Linked DNA regions of Homo sapiens. The protein of the gene in region 1 interacts with the protein of each later gene in a pairwise test. Each region holds a gene or a part of one and is shown in the gene's direction. Other genes may lie near its edges.

Region 1 (3,819 bases):
GATGCTTGTTGCCATTTTATTTGTATAGAAATTTTAAAATCCTGTCAGTTAATCTTGTCAGGATTTTGGAGCAGATTTTTAAATAGGAATATAGTGTGAAACTTCTAGATTTACTAATAGTTATTGGAGCTCTGCATTGCCGAGATATGTTCTTAATCTCTTGATGTTCTGTGAGCCATCTATACTCAGCACATGCCTAACTCAAAAGAGTTGTGGACTAGAAAATGCATACAGTATTGCAGCATCTCATCTCGAGATAGAAGGGTGGTCACACAGCCTTTTTCAAATGCTGCACCATTGGTCTGCTAGGCTGTGATTTTTGATACTAATTGGTTTCTGTTTTTCTTCGAAGAGTGAATGCATTGCCTGTGAGATACAGCTGGCTAATACTGGGTAGGGGGAGGGCCTCTTGTCCCTCAGGCACTTAGATTTTGGCGTTGTAATTTCATGATTCCTCTTAAGTGGTATTGGTTATTTTAAACATGCTTTTCAACTGATGTGACAGTAGTGTCTTTATTGCCAGAATGGCACAACATAATCATCCTGTTTTTAGGAAGATTAGAATATTTTCATTAAATAGTCTTTTTAATAACTAATTTAGCACTTAAAATTCCTTCCCACTAAATGAATAAAATGTTGAGGTTTGAGAAATAAGAAAGGGATGAGAATATTTTGGGACTCAATCATTGACATTTTATATACAGTTATGTATAATTAATGACACAACATTCAAAGTGTTCTTTCCAAAACTAAGAGAAGTACTAAGATGATTTCTTCTTCTAACAGTGCACTTAAAATTTAACTGAAAATTTTAAATACCTCTACACCTTGTTTCCTCCATTGTTTCTATGTGCAGAATGAGTCTTACCTGTAGATTTCTGTTGTGAGTTTTCCTGCTTTGACAATATGACCTACAGCCTCATTAAAGGGCTAGAGTGGAAAGGAGTGTCAGTAAAAGGTGCTACATGCTGAAGACTAAAACGGGAAGCTGGTAGGGGCGAGACTGATCTACGTAAGAGGCCAGCCAGAACCTTCAGAACATTGTGTGTATGATGAGCTTGTTGTATACTTTTATACTTCTAGATTCTCTTAGATTTGTGGCATATAATAAATATTTTATGGTTTGGAGTTTAGAGAGAACATTACTTAACTGCTAACTGGTTTGATACTTTTTTCAGGTCTCGTAGGTATCAGTAGTAGAAAAGTAGCATGAATCATTTAGTAGCACGAATCATTTAGTCCAGTCTGCTAAATTGTGAATCATACATTTGAAGAGTATTTTGTTGATTATAATTTAGAATGTTGTTGTAATCATTTGCAATACTTTCTTCATTGGTGTTATCCTCATTTCATTTCCTTTGGAAGGTAAGTTAAAAAATATCGGTGATTGATGTGAAATAACTTTTTTTTTTGTTTTTTTTTTTTTAAGAATCTTTAAAATGCTTGTGGTGGTTGTAGTGATTCTTTTAGCTTAAGTGTTGCCAGTACAACATTGGAGGTAACTTAATTTTTTTCTTTTTTCCCTACAGCTGTGATTGGGTTATTATACCCCTGCATTGACAGACATCTAGGAGAACCACATAAATTTAAAAGAGAGTGGTCCAGTGTAATGCGGTGTGTAGCAGTCTTTGTTGGTATAAATCATGCCAGTGCTGTATCCTTTACTCTGTAATGAAATGCATAATAACAAAGTGGCTTCCAACAAACCAAAGGTTAAACAGCCCCTTACAACTTCACTGTTGTCAAATTATGATATGCCCACTTAGTCAGAAGAAGAATGTCAACCATATTGTTGAAACATCGGTGTAGCAGCTGTGCAATTATAAAGTGGGGTATAGCCTTTCATTTCATTGTGTATTTTTCACTATCACTTAGAAACTTTGCAAATTTGAAAACTTTACTTGTTTTTCTTAAATTTGGTTACTTAATTACTTTTGTGTAGTTAATCCAAAAATGGAACAGGTACATTTTCAGAGGAGTTTTTTCCTCTCTTTCTTTGTTAAGAATTGCTAATAAGTACATGTGGTAGCTTCAGGTGCTATTTTGTCTTTTGTTTTTCTTAACTTAAAGAAGCTTTTTTTTTTTAAAGGTAGATGCATTGGTTTTAATCAATACCGACAAACCACATAAACGGCATAAGTAGAAATACCAACTTAGACCTTGGCCAAAAAATAAGTTTCTACCCTAGTACATATTTTCAAAGTTTTATTGTTTGAAGATTCAGACATTTTATTTAGTGGTTAATGAGTATTTTTACAGTGTCTCAGGTAGCCCCTATTCCCCTTCCCCTTTCTACCTTCTCTGCCCAGAAAAAAATGTTTGCCCTCATAAGGTTTTCCTCCTATCATCCTCTTTATTTCCTCTCTTGTACTTCCTCCTCATTTGCTCTGACTTTCCTTGGTAGAAGAGGAACTAGGAAATGCTATTCCTGTCTTTTTCTAGGAGATGTGGTTTAGACAATGAAGGTGGCAGGAGCCTTGGGTACTTGGAAAAGCAAGAAGTGTGACTCAGGCTGCCAAAAGTTTGCTCTTATAACTCTGCACTGGACTTGGGGCAGGCAGAGTTAGCTAGCTGGAGAGAGAGGGTGGGTCATGTGTCAAGTAGACCCCTGTGTCTTTCCCAAAAAGTATTGAGGTGTTTTGGATAAGCTTGGGGACAGAAACCATAGAAAAGAGCAGGGTCCTAGATTCTGAAAACACATCTGCCTTCCTCTGCACAGTTGTGCTGGCTGTTGCAGGTCTGTGAATTTGGAAGTCCCTCAGTGGCTATTATTAGTTTTAATTTCTGTTTGTATTGAGGACATTTCCACATGTTTATTTTGGTGAACTTTTTGAGATTTAAGATTTTATAAAAAATCTAGTGGTCAGGAGGGCTTAAAAAGTTAAAATCATATACTATTATATCTAGAAGAGAACTTAGAAATCACCTAGTTCCACATTTTCTTTGTAAAGATAATAAACAGAAGCTAAAGAGGTTAGGTAATTTACTAAGTCATTTATACTGCGACATTGCAGCAGAGCTGAGAACAGCCCTGAGACAGCCTGACTAAAGTCTAGAAACATCTCATTTTCCTACCCAGGAACCTCAAAACTGTGTCAGTTCCTCTCTGTCCGGTGGATTAGATCTTTCTCTCTTAGACACTTCCACTTTGATTTTTGTTTTTAAGTAGAGAAATTTAAATAGCCTTTTCTGAAATTCTAAAAACTTAATAAGTTCAAATTCTTTGCTTTGTTCACTCTCTTTCTCAATGAAATACTTAAATATAGCAATCTTAGATATCCTGTTGTCCTTCAAGTAAAGTCCAACATGTTTACCAAATTTATAGCATACACTTCTAATATTAGGTTACTTAGACTTTACAAAATCATTTGGCACTATTTTTTTATTTTTTGAGACGGAGTCTTGCTCTGTCACCCAGGCTGGAATGCAGTGGCACAATCTTGGCTCACTGCAAGCTTCGCCTCCCGGGTTCACGCCATTCTCCTGCCTCAGCCTCCTGAGTAGCTGGGACTACAGGCACCTGCCACCACACCCGGTGAATTTTTCTGTATTTTTAGTAGAGATGGGGTTTCACCATGTTAGCCAGGATGGTCTCAATCTCCTGACCTTGTGATTCGCCCACCTCGGTCTCTCAAAGTGCTGGGATTACAGGCATGAGCCACCGCACCTGGCCCATATGGCACTATTTTAAGATTGATATATCTATTTACGCTGGAAGCCTCCTTACTTCGCTGTGACTTTTAATTAAGTTTAGTTAGCAAACATGAAACTCATTTAATACCAAATTCCACTCTTTACATGAGTGTTTATTTCATAGGG
Region 2 (4,546 bases), on another chromosome or scaffold:
CAGTGTGCCATGCTCCCTGTAGGGAGTGGACAGTGGCACCCCAGAGATGTCCACCTCCTAATCCTGGAACCTGTGAGTATGTTGCCTTGGTAGTCCCCTATGGTAAAAGGGACTTTGCAGATATGATTAAGGATCTTGAGATGGGGAGGTGATCTTGGAATATCTGGGTGGGCCCAGGGTCATCCCGTGAGTCCTTACAAGTGAAAGAGGGAGGCAGAAGGCTCAGAGTCAGAGGGAGAGTTGAATATGCATTGCTGCTAGCTTTGAGGGTAAAAGTGGCTAGGAGCCAAGAAATGCAGGAGATCTCTGGAAGCTGGAAAAGGCAAGGAAACAACCATCCCCCAGAATCTCCAGAAGGAATGCAGCCCTGCCGACACATTCATTTTAACCCGGTGTGATGTATTTTGGACTTCTGACCTCCAGAACTGCAAGATACTAAATACGTGTTGTTTTAAGCCACCAGATTGTAGTAATTTGTTACAGCAGCAAACTATAGCGATGAATACATTCTGCTGATGTCTTTGTTTCCTATCCCTATTTCTCGCTCTAGGTTTACATTTTAAAACTGTTTCCATCTAGGCCGCGCGCTGTGGCTCGCGTCTGTAATTCCAGCACTTTGAGAGGCCAAGGCAGGAGGATCACTTGAGGTCAGGACTTCGAGACCAGCCTGGCCAACATGGTGAAACCCTGTCTCTACTGAAAATACAAAAATTAGCTGAGCATGGTGGCATGCACCTGTAATCCCAGCTACTCAGGAGGTTGAGATTAGAGGATTGCTTGAACCCAGGTGGTGGAGGTTGCAGTGAGCCAAGATCATGCCACTGCACTCTAGCCTGGGTGACATAGCGAGACTCTGTCTCAAAAATAAAAAAAATAAAATTAAAAAACTATTTTCTTTTTTTTTAGCGTTAAATCGAAAGTTCCCTAGTTAATTCCCACAATTAGGAGGGGCCCACCAGTTCCACAAATAGGAAATCTCTGCACTGCTCTTGCTCGTAAAGTGTATTTGCTTTTTCATAAATTGCTTATGTTCTTTGAGCCACCAATGGTTTAATGTCAGAATAATATAGATCATTAGAGCCTCTCAAGATCCCACAAGGAACTGCACTTTCTCCTGTAGTTAACCATCCAGTCATCCATGCAAGAAATATTTATTGGATGCTACCATGTATCAGGCACTGAGCCAGTATTGAGATGTGAAGACACAGTGCATAATCTAAGCCTTTACAGAGGCCACAGATGTTGGGTTTTTATGGCTTGAGAACAACATACATTGTTTCTTTCCAGGAAGCTAATTGGGGTACATGGAGCCACTTTGACTAAGTAGCAAGGAACAGGAACTGCACACTGGTTCCATCTTGGCTTCCAATTTGTATTCAGACCCAGGCAAGAGTTAAAGAGTTCGATGATAGATAAGCACAGATGCAAAACAGTACAGTCCAGTGCCTCTTTGCTTAGGCTAATATCTGCCCTCTCTTTATCCTCTCCAGCCCTGCCTTCCTGCCTTTGACGCAGGGAGCTAAGGGTCTGAATGAACCCTGTTGGAGGTTGCAATTAAATCTTTGTGGACAAAGGCACACACACACACACATACACAGAATCCTCAGATAACAGGAGGCAATAAATCCAACAGCACATCCACGTTCAGAGAACAGTGTCCCTGCTGTCTTGCTAACAGCTGCCAATACCTCACTGAGTGCCTCACACCAACATGGGCTCCAAGGTAAGATTTTTCTCTCTCCGGACAAATTTAATCTTTCCTTGTGATTTGTGTCTCTGTCAGAGGATTTTGACTGTTAAGTAAAGTTTACTATTGATTTGTTGGCAAATTCCTGGTTTTGTTTGTTTTTGTTTTGGGATTTGGGTGTGTGTGTTTCTCTCTCTTTGTAGTACTTACTTCACTCACTATGTTTTTTAATTTTCCATGGCTTGTCTTTTATTCTTATCCATACATATCCTAAGTCAATTTGTATTCAGAAATACCTCCTTTATATAGAGAAATGAAGGATCTTAAGTAATTGCATGCATTTACTGGTTAAAACTTAACTGAGAATTTGGTTCACTTAGGACCTTGGTCACGTTAATATGTAGTAGTGAGAGGGTTCTTCCAGCCCTGGGCTTAGAACAGAGTACCTCAGTGTTTGGGGTACTCCCAACACCTGAGGCTGACTATTGAATTTCAGTGATAATCATTTAAAATTATTTACTTCTTTAATTACAAAAGTAGCTCATTATTGAATATTTAGAAATACACAGAAGATAACTGAAGTCATTGATTATAAATAACTGGCATTTGAGTATCTCTCTACTCTCTCAAAAATGTGCCCATATATTTATATTTAGACAATTGAGATAAAGTTGAAAACACAGTTTAATTTCCCTTTTTTACTTAACGTTATAGTAATAGTATTTTCTGTATCATTAAAATTATTTGAAAATATAATTTTTAAGAGCCGCTTAATAATCCACCATTAACATGTTTGACTTTTTTCACTAAGAAAAATAATTCTGCAATTGATCATTTTGAGTATAAGTCTTTGGCTGCATCTCTGACCTTTTTTCTTTTGTAGGATGGGTTCCTTGTAGTAGAGTTACTAAGTCAAAGAGTATACAATTTTTAGGGCCTGATAGATTTCATGATGGTAATCTATTTTAAAATTTAAATGAGTGATATTGTTGATACCACAACAGAAGCCACGTCAAAGAAAATGAAATTCTCCCCAGAAACTCTTATTACTTGAAGTTTGACAAGGTACTGTGACTTAATGCTGACTAATGATATGAAATCCTGAATAGAGAACTAATCATGAAAGTCAATATTTTATTTTCACAGATGAAGGCATCTTTCTGATCAGGGGTTTGTAGCTCAAACAAAAGAATGAGCGTGCTTCTAGAACCACAGAGCAAGGGAACATGGTAGAGGATAAGCTGGCAAGTTGAAAAGCGTGGGATTTCATCCCAGTTTGACACTAACTGTGCAACCCCAAACAAATCTCCTAACCTTCAGAGGCTCGGATTTCTTGTCTATGAGATGAAGGTTGGTCTACATCAGTGTTTCTCAGTGGGCAGCCCAAGTGACACTGTGCCACATGAAATATTTTGGGGTAGCACCTAGAACAAAGGTCATACTTTTTTTGCATGCCACATAAAATAACTTTTTGAAACATGATATCAATATCTATGTTGGTTTTAAAAATTTTTTGAGAGTTAGGGGTCTTGCTATGTAGTCCAGGCTGGACTCAAACTCCTGGGCTCAAGATATCCTCCCACCTCAGCCTCCCAAGTAACTGAGACTCCAGGCACATCCCACCATACCTGGCAGTATCTCAATATTTTAAAAGAGTGGATCTAGAGGAAAAAGATGAAGTAAATGATAGTACAGGTAGTCCTTAGATATGACATAAACCATCAAGGTGATAGGCAAATAAATGTCGGATGTTTGAAAAACACAGGGTTAAGTGATCTGTAGAGCATCTATTTTTATCTGGATTTATACCTAGCCATTAAATTCAAGGGAAATTAATGGCTAGATATAAATCCAGACATAAATAGCTAGTAAGCGATGCTTACCAGGAAGGCATTCTGGGAACCAGGTAGAGTTATTGAGATTTATAAGAAGTGAACAGTGATACAGACATGGAGATGTTTCCAAATATCATCCTACTACTTGCAACCCTTTGCACTTTTCGTTTTAATAGTGAGTTTCCTTCGTCTGGGCAGACTCCCTCCCCTCTTCCATAAAGGCTGCAGGAGACCTGTAGCTGTCACAGGACCTTCCCTAAGAGCCCGCAGGGGAAGACTGCCCCAGTCCGGCCATCACCATGCTCCGGACCATTCTGGATGCTCCCCAGCGGTTGCTGAAGGAGGGGAGAGCGTCCCGGCAGCTGGTGCTGGTGGTGGTATTCGTCGCTTTGCTCCTGGACAACATGCTGTTTACTGTGGTGGGTACGTTTGTGGGTCTTTGTGCTGAGGGTTAATTTGCTGTGGGCCCCAGCAGGCAGTGTACACCCTGCTTGAGTTCAACAGTGAATCCATCTGAGAATTTTCCTTTTTATGCTCAAAAACACACAGAGGTTGTTGGGGACTGGAAAAAAGCCCTGCAGAAAATGGAGTCTGACACTTGTCAAACACAGCTAAAAGACTCAGGAGGTTCAAAGAGCAGGAGGTCCAGAGAGGGTCTGACTGGAGAAGAGGATGGCCCGGAGCCAGAACTGGCTGTGCTTTTCTTTCTCCCCACACTGTCTTCTCAAGGTGCTAATGACTCCAAGTGCCTCTGAGGCAGCGAGATCTTCTCACAGGGGTGCCTTTCTGGACTCTGCTCTATAAAAACAGCATATTTTATTTGGATATCTGATTTAGTATCAAGACCTTGCCTTCCTTGTGGTTCTTTCCCTCAGAATCCTGCTTTTTTTAGTTGATACTCTCCTAATCATTACATTAAGTTACACCCTTGTATAAATGGGCACTAAAAGGTTTCTCCTCTTGGGTAAAACATATGTTTTTAAAAAAGGATCTTTCTGAGACAAGTTGTTAATCCAATACAATC

The links.
Region 2: the proteins of INSIG2 (region 1) and SLC18A1 interact in a two-hybrid assay, tested with the Homo sapiens proteins (one large-scale study listed by BioGRID).

Annotation. Positions count from the first base shown.
Region 1 is NC_000002.12:118,101,668-118,105,486, forward strand, and holds part of INSIG2 (insulin-induced gene 2 protein), read left to right. Parts: intron 1-1,529; coding exon 1,530-1,654; intron 1,655-3,819. UniProt on the Homo sapiens protein: Oxysterol-binding protein that mediates feedback control of cholesterol synthesis by controlling both endoplasmic reticulum to Golgi transport of SCAP and degradation of HMGCR.
Region 2 is NC_000008.11:20,180,240-20,184,785, reverse strand, and holds the start of SLC18A1 (chromaffin granule amine transporter), read left to right. Parts: upstream 1-1,649; 5' UTR 1,650-1,723; intron 1,724-2,833; exon of another isoform or gene 2,834-3,037; intron 3,038-3,698; 5' UTR 3,699-3,821; coding exon 3,822-3,945; intron 3,946-4,546.